Linked DNA regions of Homo sapiens. The protein of the gene in region 1 purifies or fractionates together with the protein of each later gene. This does not show direct contact. Each region holds a gene or a part of one and is shown in the gene's direction. Other genes may lie near its edges.

Evidence for each region.
Region 2: the proteins of WDR86 (region 1) and CCT6B purify together in Homo sapiens (affinity purification with mass spectrometry; 2 studies listed by BioGRID and IntAct, with this or other methods). This does not show direct contact.
Region 3: the proteins of WDR86 (region 1) and TXNDC9 purify together in Homo sapiens (affinity purification with mass spectrometry; 2 studies listed by BioGRID and IntAct, with this or other methods). This does not show direct contact.

The regions. Positions count from the first base shown.
Region 1 is NC_000007.14:151,399,934-151,403,586, reverse strand, and holds part of WDR86 (WD repeat-containing protein 86), read left to right. Parts: intron 1-3,345; coding exon 3,346-3,487; intron 3,488-3,653.
Region 2 is NC_000017.11:34,951,455-34,955,107, reverse strand, and holds part of CCT6B (T-complex protein 1 subunit zeta-2), read left to right. Parts: intron 1-508; coding exon 509-682; intron 683-3,054; coding exon 3,055-3,158; intron 3,159-3,653. UniProt on the Homo sapiens protein: Component of the chaperonin-containing T-complex (TRiC), a molecular chaperone complex that assists the folding of proteins upon ATP hydrolysis.
Region 3 is NC_000002.12:99,329,759-99,333,411, reverse strand, and holds part of TXNDC9 (thioredoxin domain-containing protein 9), read left to right. Parts: intron 1-169; 5' UTR 170-201; coding exon 202-390; intron 391-3,653. UniProt on the Homo sapiens protein: Significantly diminishes the chaperonin TCP1 complex ATPase activity, thus negatively impacts protein folding, including that of actin or tubulin.

The DNA.
Region 1 (3,653 bases):
GCTGGAAAACTTTTTTGTTAAATTATGTTTCTTAGAACTCAGGAAGTTGCGTTTTTCCAAGAGTAACTGAACTTAAACTCAGGGGGTCGGGGGAAGGGGTGGATGTGAATTGGCTTGAAACTACCCAGGAAATTCTAAATCCCTGTCTACCCAATACCAGCTGTCTAAATGAAATTTTAAAATTCTATCAAAATTCTTAATGTAATAAGTATGTCCCCCAAATGTGTGGATGTTTGAATTTGTCCATTGTCTCATCTGTAAAATGGCTCTTAGTTCTAACAGTCTTTTGATTTGACTTCCTGGTCCCCGAGTTCCTCAAATCCAGTGGGCCTTCCTGCCCAACACGTTCTGCACCTGTGGGTTCGTCTAACCACAGATGAAAAACATCCAGGAAAAAAAATTCCACAAGGCTCCAAAAAGCAAAATTTGGCTTCCCTGCTCACCAAGTCCTACACTGAATCCACACAAGTGAAGCGATGTGTAGCCATCGCAGTGGGTGTCATAAGTAACCTAGAGATGAACTGAAGTATGCAGGAGGATTGCATAGGTTATGGGCAAATACTACACCACAGGGACCTGAGCGTTGTGGAGTTTGGTATCTGCAGGGGATCCTGGAACTAATCCCTGATGGGTATTGGGGGCAACTGTATATATTGGGGGACAACTGTATACACACCATCTTTACCTGAAGGGCAGGCCCTACTAAGATCAGAGACCCTGAGGGCCCCCAGGGCTGCTAAGCAATGCCTGAGGCATAAACATTGATCTGGCAGCCAGGGTGATAGTCAAGCTATCTAACTGCACCCATGAGATAGAGTCCCAACCAGCTGGTGGGGTAGCTCAGGTGCTGAGACCCCAGACACCCTGGCATGGCCCTCCACTCTTGGCCCTCCATTCTGGCCACATCCCGGCCTCATCAGTCATCTCTACCGATCACTCAGACTCTGGCCTGGAGGTGCCCCATGGAGCCAGTCCCTGCACGCCTGCTTTCCTAGCCGCTGTTCTCCCTACGGGCACCGAGTCACCCTCTTCCTGGTCTCCAGTGCTCAGGCTTCTCTCCCGAGCCCCAGCCAGCCGCTGCCAGTGGGGTGCCGAGCCCTGCTGACCACATGCTGCCCTTGACTGTCTTCCCTTCTGGGCCTGGAGCTCCCTTGGAGGGCAAGGCTGTGTTTCATTGTCTCTGTGTCTATGTTAGTGTCCTGGGGCTGCTGTGACAAAGGAGGATGCTTGGTGCCTGGAAACAAGTGAAGTTGATTCTTCACAGTGCTGGAACCCAGAGGGCTGAAATGAGCGTCCCTGGGATGAAAGCAGGGTGTCAGCAGGGCCACATCTAAACCCTGCAGGGAACGGTCGGTTCCTGGCCTCTTCCAGCCCTAGTGGCTGCTGGCATTCCTGCGCTCGTGGCCACATCCATCTCTGCCTTCACCTTCACGGCCTCCTCTTCCGAGTATATCACATCTCCCTGGCCTCTCTCTTGTAAGGACATTTGTGGAGATATATATATATATATATATATTTTTTTTTTTTTTTTTTTTTTTTGAGGCAGAGTTTTGCTCTGTCACCCAGGCTGGAGTGCAGTGGTGCAACCTCAGCTCACTGCAGCCTCCGCCTTCCGGGTTCAAGCAGTTCTCTGCCTCAGCCTCCCGAGTAGCTGGGATTACAGGCGCCCACCACCACGCCCGGCTAATTTTTTGTATTTTTAGTAGAGACGGGGTTTCACCATCTTAGCCAGGCTGATCTTGAACTCCTGACCTTGTGATCCACCCGCCTCGGCCTCCCAAAGTGCTGGAATTACAGGCGTGAGCCACCGCGCCTGGCCACTTGCGGTTGTATTTAGGACCCCCCGGATAATCTAGGATAATCTCCCCAGTCAAAGTCTTTACCTCGTCACATCCACAAAGACCCCTTTCCAAGTAAGGTCACATTGACAGGTTCCAGGGATTAGGACCTGCTGTCTTGGGGCCGTCATTCTGCCTACCACAGTATCTCTCCCCAGTGTAAGGAAAATAGCGAACATGTGCCATTCCCTCTGCGGCTGCCTCTGTCCTCAGTCTGCGCTACATCCCGTGAGGCAGGCATTGTCCCCATCCCAGGTGAGGAAATGTGGAATGCAAAAGCTGAAAGGTTTGAAAAAGACTAAAAGGAGATGATAAAGAAATGAGGAGGGAAGGAGAGGAGGGAGGAAGGCAAGAGTGGAAGCTGAGGAAACAGAGGGTTTAGGGTGCAGGCGAGTGCCCCTGGATTGCTCCTGCTGTTGATGGCTGCTGTGAAACCTCAGTTCTTGTCTTCTTAGTTTAACAGAATTGAAACAGGAGACACACAGCAAAGGAGATGCAGCATAGAGCAATGTATTGCACAGGAGGAAGAATACCCTGAAAGTTAGGTGCAGAATAGGCAGGACGCCCCAAGAGGGGAGTCAGGGTAGGCTGCCTGTGAGGATGAGAGAGCAAAGACCGGCTGGAGGGAGGATCCCTTTTTAGGAGTCTTACCTGATTATTCATGAGCAGGTGGGCAAGGGGGTTGCTGGGAAGCATGTTCTGGGTGCTCATGCACAGTGGCTGTGCATCCCTGTTCATACGTCACATGTCTCACTGGCATCTTAAATCTCCATCCAGGGGTGTGTTTTTTACTATTGTAATGAGCAAAGGGTCACTGTGAGGACCGGTAAAAATCAAAGTGCACGTGCTCTCTACAGGGGAAAGTCCCTACTGAAGATAGCTTTGCTTGAATGAGCTTGCCTGCAGTGCGAATGCTGGGGCTTATTGTGTTGACGGCGCAGTCGCCATGGTTGCTGCGTCCTGAGGACATGGTTACTTCCCTGACTATCTGTCGTGCCTCACTGGTACCCCGTGCTTTCTGAGAATCACTCAGACTGAAGTCATTCTTTAAGAAGGATGAGTTGAGGGCTGGGCGCAGTGGCTCACGCCTGTAATTCCAGCACTTTGGGAGGCCAAGGCAGGCAGATCACTTGAGGTCAGGAGTTCGAGACCAGCCTGACTAACATGGCGAAACCCCATCTCTACTAAAAATACAAAGAATTAGCCAGGTATAGTGGTATGCGCCTGTAATCTCAGCTACTCAGGAGGCTGAGGCAGGAGAATCACTTGAACCCGGGAGGCAGAGGTTGCAGTGAGCCCAGATCGCGCCACTGTACTCCAGCCTTGTGACAGAGTGAGACTCTGTCTCAAAAAAACAAAACAAAACAAAACTAATGCTAATTGACTCCAGCTTGTCTCAAACACTCCCTACATCCTGCTTTCTTCCCTTTTCAAACATTGTTCCCAGAAGAAAAGCAGGAGCTGGCATCCCCAGTACGCTCACATCTCCCCTGTCCCTCATCTGCAGGACATGAAAGCTATGTGACCTTCTGCCAGCTGGAGGATGAGGCTGCCTTCACATGCAGCGCCGACTGCACCATCAGGAGGTGGGACGTGCTGACCGGGCAGTGTCTGCAGGTGTACCGAGGACACACGTCCATCGTGAACAGGTCAGCCTGGCTGGGGGCTTGGGCTGAGTCTCACCATACATAGGCTTCTGGTGGGGCTGAGGGGTCAGAGATATGGGCCCCTGCACGTGAGGGCCCTTGGCTCTCTGGGGAAGCAAAAACGTGGACAGCTGGGAGGTGGTCAGTAGCACCCAGCGACGTGGACCCA
Region 2 (3,653 bases), on another chromosome or scaffold:
TATTTCCTCAATTAAACTTAGGTTACAGATTGTTGGCCAAAATACCATAGAACTGTTGTGTTCTACTGAATGCATCATGTCAGCAGGCATGTGATGCCTGTCTGTCTCATTATTGTGATGTTAACTTTGATCACTTGGTGAAGTGGTAGACACCACAGTGTTCTATCTGCCACTTTTCCCCAATTCAGTGGTGGTTCTTTTCCTCTGCATTGAAAGGAATCTTTTTATGTGTGCCCATTCAGAAGGGCACCACATAACAACAATGTAGTCATAATTTTTGGAAATAAAAAGGACTTCTGTAATTTTTAATACTAGACTTGAAGCCTTACTGTTAAGGTTGAGATTATTTCAAGTATGAAGCACTAAAATGACTTTTATAAATTATGTACACTTATATTTCATGGCATTAATGTGAGTAACTTTTTTTGAACATAATAATCAGACAGGTTGGTTACTTTTACATTGGGTGACTTATTTTATAATTTATAATTTTATGTTGATGTAACAGGGCCTGCACCCTAGAATAATAGCTGAAGGATTTGAAGCTGCAAAGATAAAAGCACTTGAAGTTTTGGAGGAAGTTAAAGTGACAAAGGAGATGAAAAGAAAAATCCTCTTAGATGTAGCTAGAACATCATTACAAACTAAAGTTCATGCTGAACTGGCTGATGTCTTAACAGAGGTATGTTATTAAACTTTTGCATTCAGAACAAATATAGCCTAATGCATGGTGATATTTTTCTTTTTCTGTAAGATAATCAAGTATTTCATGTGGTTTTTTGGGCATAAAATATGGAAGACAGACAATTATTGTATAGGCCTAACTGTAGATTAGATTTGACTGGTCAGAACAGTATTTGTAATTTTCAGAAGTATCATACTAGGCCTTTTTTTAAACGTGACTTGAAAGGTGGGAGAGGTTTGGCTGCCTGCAGATCATCTCCTGTGGAAGCTCTTGAATAGTATACTGGTCTTTTTAAATCTAGCAGTCCATATTTTATTATGTGAGGTGACACACAAGATAGTTGTTTTAGCAGTGTACCTTGTAGATAAGGTTACCAATATAATGAAATGTGATATGATATATTAATATATTAATATTCACATATTGGAAATGTATGTTTGTTTAGTTTATTTCTTTTATTAATTTATTTGAGACAGAGTCTTACTCTGTCACTCAGGCTGGAGTGCAGTGTCATGATCTCAGCTCACTGCAACCCCCGTCTCCCAGGTTCAAACGATTCTCCTACATCAGCCTCCCGAGTAGCTGGGATTACAGGCGCGTGCCACCACGCCTGGCTAATTTCTGTATTTTTAGTAGAGATGGGGTCTCACTATGTTACCAAAGCTTGTCTTGAACTCCTGACCTCAAATGATACACCCACCTCGGGCTTCCAAAGTGCTGGGATTACAGGCATGAAGTCACCACATCTGGCCAGTGTTTTGTTTATTTCTAAAGGTAGAATATATGTTATATAGGCTGGGCATGGTGGCTCATGCTTGTAATCCCAGCACTTTAGGAGGCCGAGGTGGGGAGACGACCTGAGGTCAGGAGTTTGAGACCAGCCTGGCCAACATGGTGAAATCCTGTCTGTACTCAAAATACAAAAATTAGCTGGGCATGTTAGCAGGCACCTGTAATCCCAGCTACTTGGGAGGCTAAGGCAGGAGAATCACTCTGGGAGGGAGGGGGAGGTTGCAGTGAGCTGACATCATGCCATTGCACTCTAGCCTGGGTGACAGAGTGAAACTTTGTCTCAAAAAAATATATATATATATATATATATATTTTATATAAAGACAAGATTGGCTGGATATTTTGGGAAGGCTTTTATCAGGTGGCAATGATTTGATATCATTATTGTTTTTCAGCTTTGTAATTTCTGAAACTTGAATATATTTGTTTACCAGGAAGAATGATAAATTCTTAGGAAACAAATTCACAAGACATTGACATACAAAGCAGAATACTACCTTAATAATTTACTTTGAGAACTACAAATGCCAAATGTACTGGAATACTTGAGTTGTTTCTGATCGATTCTCCTTACCGTTAAAAAAAAACAACTTGGGAAATCAGATTAAGATCAGACAATTTCTTGATGAGCAGAGTCAGAAGAAAGGCTCTGCTGTGTTTTCTGCTGTTAGAGTACTTGAATGGCCCCAAATCTTCATGCTGCTAGGGCACCCATTCTGTTTTAGAGTTACAGAAACAGTGATATTCTCACTATCCAATGGCCTTTGTCCTATTTCTTATTTGCCTCTAAAATAAAATATTATGTCACCTCAGGCAAAGTTTTCTAAGATACAGTTTTTTCTGCTTTATGTATATTTTAGGGTAGTTATAACTTAGCCCTTAATTTCTGCAGTTATTTATTATTTTTATATCATTTTCTGAGCTAAGCAATAAGACGTGTTGTGCTATGCTTCTTAAATTGTATATCCCTGGTCATATGTGACAGAATAAATGAGACGTAGCTTTCTGGAGTGTCAATTTTACTTTACAATTTTGGGGGAAAACATTATTTTTACATTGAGATAAACATATTATGGGATGACATGGAAACTTTTCACGATAAAACATGAGACTTTAACGTTTCCTGTTATTACAGCCAGCAAATTGGAGCTATTACCTTAGATTACCTTTCCTTCTTTTCCATTAAGGTGTCCTTTGGTGGAAAAGTTTGGATAGTCTTGGTATGATAGAAAGAGTAGTCGCTGGGCAGTTAGGGAGCCCTGAATTCTAGTCCCGGCCCTGTTACTAGCTGTTAGATCTTATTTAAAAACTGTGACTTCTTAAGGTCTTATCTCAGTTGCCTTATCTGTAAAATAAAAGGTTTGGACCTAATGATCTCTGAAGTTTCTTTAGACTCTAAAGTGTCTGTTGGCATTGGCTATTGTTAGCATCCATAGTAAAGTGGCACATATTGGTCTTGCCCTAGGTTTTGAATCCTGAAGGCTTTTATCTCCTTAGTCTGGTGATAGATTGTTTGGGCCCTTGGTTTATTTTAGTAGTCCAAATAACTTAACTGTTCTCATTCATTTCTCTTTCAGGTTGTGGTGGATTCTGTTTTGGCTGTTAGAAGACCAGGTTACCCTATTGATCTCTTCATGGTAGAAATAATGGAGATGAAGCATAAATTAGGAACAGATACAAAGTAAATTACATAAGCTTTGACAACATATGGGTTCTAGAATTTTTTAAAGATATTCTTTTATTAAATTCATTACTTACTTTTATTCAACATAAATATATTCATTCACCATATATTAAGTCACTGCTCTAGGTAATGGGAATGAGAGTAAACAGAACAGAATTTCTTTCCCCAAGAAGTTTATGTTTCTAATTGAAATAGAAAAAAAATCATGTGTGTGATTTTATAGTGGACAGGGAAGACTACTCTGATAAGAACCTGGAGAGCTAAGAGGTCTCTGAAGAAACAAGGGAGCTAGCCATGTGCACATCTGGAATAAGAGGGTTCTAAGCAGAAGGAATGACCTCTGAAAGGGTCCTGAGGCAGAAGTGTGACTAGGTTGTTACAGTGTGCCTGGAGCACAGGGAGAGGAGGTGAGGCAAAAGGGACCAGATTATGGAGTACCATGTTGATTTTGGATTTACTCTTTTAAAACTTTGTATTATAGAAAACTGTGAA
Region 3 (3,653 bases), on another chromosome or scaffold:
AATTTAAAAACACATAAAAATTGTTAAGCCCAGCATCAAGTGCTTGGATGTCGTTAGAATACTCCATAGAGTACACATTATACACTTGCCAGAATTTTTGAAAATGGTAGAGAAAACCTTGCTTATTGTTTGCATTTTTTAAAATGTATTTTGTAAATCTTCTCCCCAGCACCCAGGCTGAACTCTGTACCATTTGGAAGAATGGAAGCTGATGCATCTGTTGACATGTTTTCCAAAGTCCTGGAGCATCAGCTGCTTCAGACTACCAAACTGGTGGAAGAACATTTGGATTCTGAAATTCAAAAACTGGATCAGATGGATGAGGATGAATTGGAACGCCTTAAAGAAAAGAGACTCCAGGCACTAAGGAAAGCTCAACAGCAGAAACAAGTAACCTCTCTGCCCTGCTTTCTGAAATTGCTATAACAGTATGCGCCTAACAACTTATATATACATGTGCTGTAGTAGTTACATTTCGTTCTTTGTGTTTAGGGTTTTTAAAATTCAGAATACCTATTACTGTTAAAAATTTGCCCAGAAAAAAATATGTTTTAAAGACATTCAAAATTAGCCCAATCTCTATATTAATCCACAGTCGAGTAAAAGAAAGATCTGCCCAAGATCGTTTTTCTGAGCTTGGATTTGTTTGGTTGAATGGAGGGCTAGGGAGTCATTGGTTTCCATTTCAGGTAATATTAAAGCCGATTTAGCTATTTTCAAAGCAAACGAGATAAGACAGATGAGATAAGAGCAATTAAGTCAATTTATGTTGAAAAATGTATTTCAGGCATTTCCAATGAAATAATTATGTGGCATATTCAAAAGAATGCATGCTTTGTAACAAAGGTGGCCACAGCTCTATCGTTGTTGCCTCTTAGAATGTTTGTGTAGAATAAACGCAGAGTTGTAAACTCTGACTGAAACCAGTGGATTAAATTCTGTAAATTGAAATTTTTTTTTCTGCTTTTTGAGATGGAGTCTCGCTGTGACACCCTGGCTGGAGTACAGTGGTGTCATCTCAACTCACTGCAACCTCCGCTTCCCGGCTTCAAGCAATTATTCTGCCTCAGCCACCCGAGTAGCTGGGACTACAGGCGCACACCACCATGCCTGGCTAAGTTTTGTATTTTTAGTAGAGATGGGGTTTCGCCATGTTGGCTAGGCTGCCCTTGAACTTCTGACCTCAAGTGATCCGCCCACCTTAGCCTGCCAAAGTGATGGGATTACAAGCGTGAGCTACCGCACCTGGCCAAATTGAATTTTGATTAAAACATTTTTTCCACTGGGTTACATGGAAATACTTTATCACCAACTCTGGTTCCTTTTCAGTTGACTGTGACTTAAACATGAGGCTTAACTTTTCTGAAGAAATAGGGAGTTTTGACCGGGCATGGTGGTTCACATCTGTAATCCCAACACTTTGGGAGTCCAAGGTGAGCGGACAACCTGAGGTCGGGAGTTCAATACCAGCCTGGCCAACATGGTGAAACCCTGTCTCTACAAAAAATACAAAAATTAGCCAGGTGTGGTGGCGCACACCTGTAGTCCCAGCTACTCAGGAGGCTGAGGCAGGAGAATCTCTTGAACCCGGGAGGTGGAGGTTGCCGTGAGTCGAGATTGTGCTACTGCACTCCAGCCTGGATGATAGAGCAAGACCCAGTTCCCCCACAAAAAAAGAGAAGGAGTTTTGTTTGTATTGCTGTAGCATCACTTTGATATGTTTACACCCTCATGTTTAGAAGAGTTACTACAAAAGGAAATAATCTTTTATAAGTGAGTCCAAATTTTTATATTTTGAGTTTCTAAAATAGAGTACGTTATATGGCTTTTACCTGTACCCTACCGTATTTTAAAAAATAGGCTGCTTTTCTTTTTCTTTTCTTTCTTTTTTTTTTTTTTTTTGAGAGGGAGTCTCACTCTGTTGCCCATCCTGCCTTGACCTCTCAAGTAGCTGGGATTACAGGTGCCTGCCACCATGCCCAGCTGATTTTTGTACTTTAGTAGAGATGGGGTTTCATCATGTTGGTCAGGCTGGTCTCAAATTCCGACCTCAAATGATCCGCCTGCCTCAGCCTCCCAAAGTGCTGGGATTACAGGTGTGAGCCACCCCACACCAGGCCCAATTGGCTTCTTTTCATAGTATAGGGCTGATAATTAGTATGCAAAGGACGGATTATTGGAATTTAAGGTAATATATGTTTAGGTTCTGCCACAAACTCATATTTCATAGTCACATTTAAGTACTAATTGCTAATGTGCAACTAAAAATAATTATTTGTAACTAGGATATTTTTGTAGAGAGACTGAATTCACCTGATTTGCAGTGATGAACATACGTTAAATAATGTCTTAAAGGAACTTTTTGGCAGTTCAAAACAGTGGTCTGAATATAATTAAAACCAACTAAGGCAGACTGGCTATAAGCCTTTTTTATTATTAATGTATAAATCAATTTAAAATGAATTTGTCATCGAGTAATTCAGAGGGTCTTATTTTAGAACTTTCACTGCATTTTAGTAGGTCTTTTATTAAAATATTTTCTGGAAATAGTCAAGAAACCTAGTGATTTGTATAGATATTCTTTTTATAAGAGATTATACAGTAATTAGATTATGCAGTAATTTTGATTTTCTGATCCACGAGGGTATTGGGGAGATCATTGTATGCATTGACTTACAGTCGGCACTTAATAGACCTAGGTGAATCTATATTCTTCTGTCAGCCAAGCACCCTCCTACTGTTAACTAGAGCTGGCACACTTAGGTAGGGAGCAGAATAGAGGGATAAGGTAAGAAATAGGAGTTAAGCAGAGGCTTGGGTGACAGCCACTGACAGCCAGGTGCTGCCCAGCTGCCATGCCTCAGGTAGGCCCATCCTGCTTGATTCTGTTCTGCAGATACCTTAGGAGCACATGCTGTCCAAAAGGGGCTATGCTAAGAGCACAGGGGTGTAGTGAATGTGTCAGGAGAGGCCCTGAGCATTGGTAGAGGTTTGGAATGGGCACATCCTCCCTCAAAGGAGCCCAGGACAGGTTCGGGTCTTCAGCCTCTTGGTTAAATACCTGAGAATAAATAATGAAAAGAAATAGCAGCTTTTTTTTTTTTTTTTTTTTTTTTTTTTTGAGATAAGAGTCTTGCTCTGTTGCCCCGGCTGGAGTGCAGTGGCACAATCTCGGCTCACTGCAACCTCCACCTCCCAGGATCAAGCAATTCTTCTGCCTCAGCCTCCCAAGTAGCTGGGATTACAGACGCCTGCCACCATGCCCGGCTAATTTTTGTATTTTTAGTAGAGGTGGGGTTTCGCCATGTTGGCCAGGCTGGTCTTGAACTCCTGACCTCAGGTGATCCGCCCACCTCAGCCTCCCAAAGTGCTAGTATTACAGGCGTGAGCCACTGCGCCCGGCCTAGAAATAGCAGCTTTTTAAAAGACAAATACTTTTTTTTTTGAGACAGGGTCTTGCTCTGTCACCCAGGCTGGAGTGCAGTGGTGTGATCTTGGCTCACTGCAACCTCCGCCTTCGGAGTTCAAGCAATTATTGTGCCTCAGCCCCCGAGGAGCTGGGATTACAGGTGTGTGCCAACACACCTGGCTAATTTTCATATTTTTTGTAGAGACAGGGTTTCGCCGTGTTGCCCAGGCTGTTCTCAAACTCC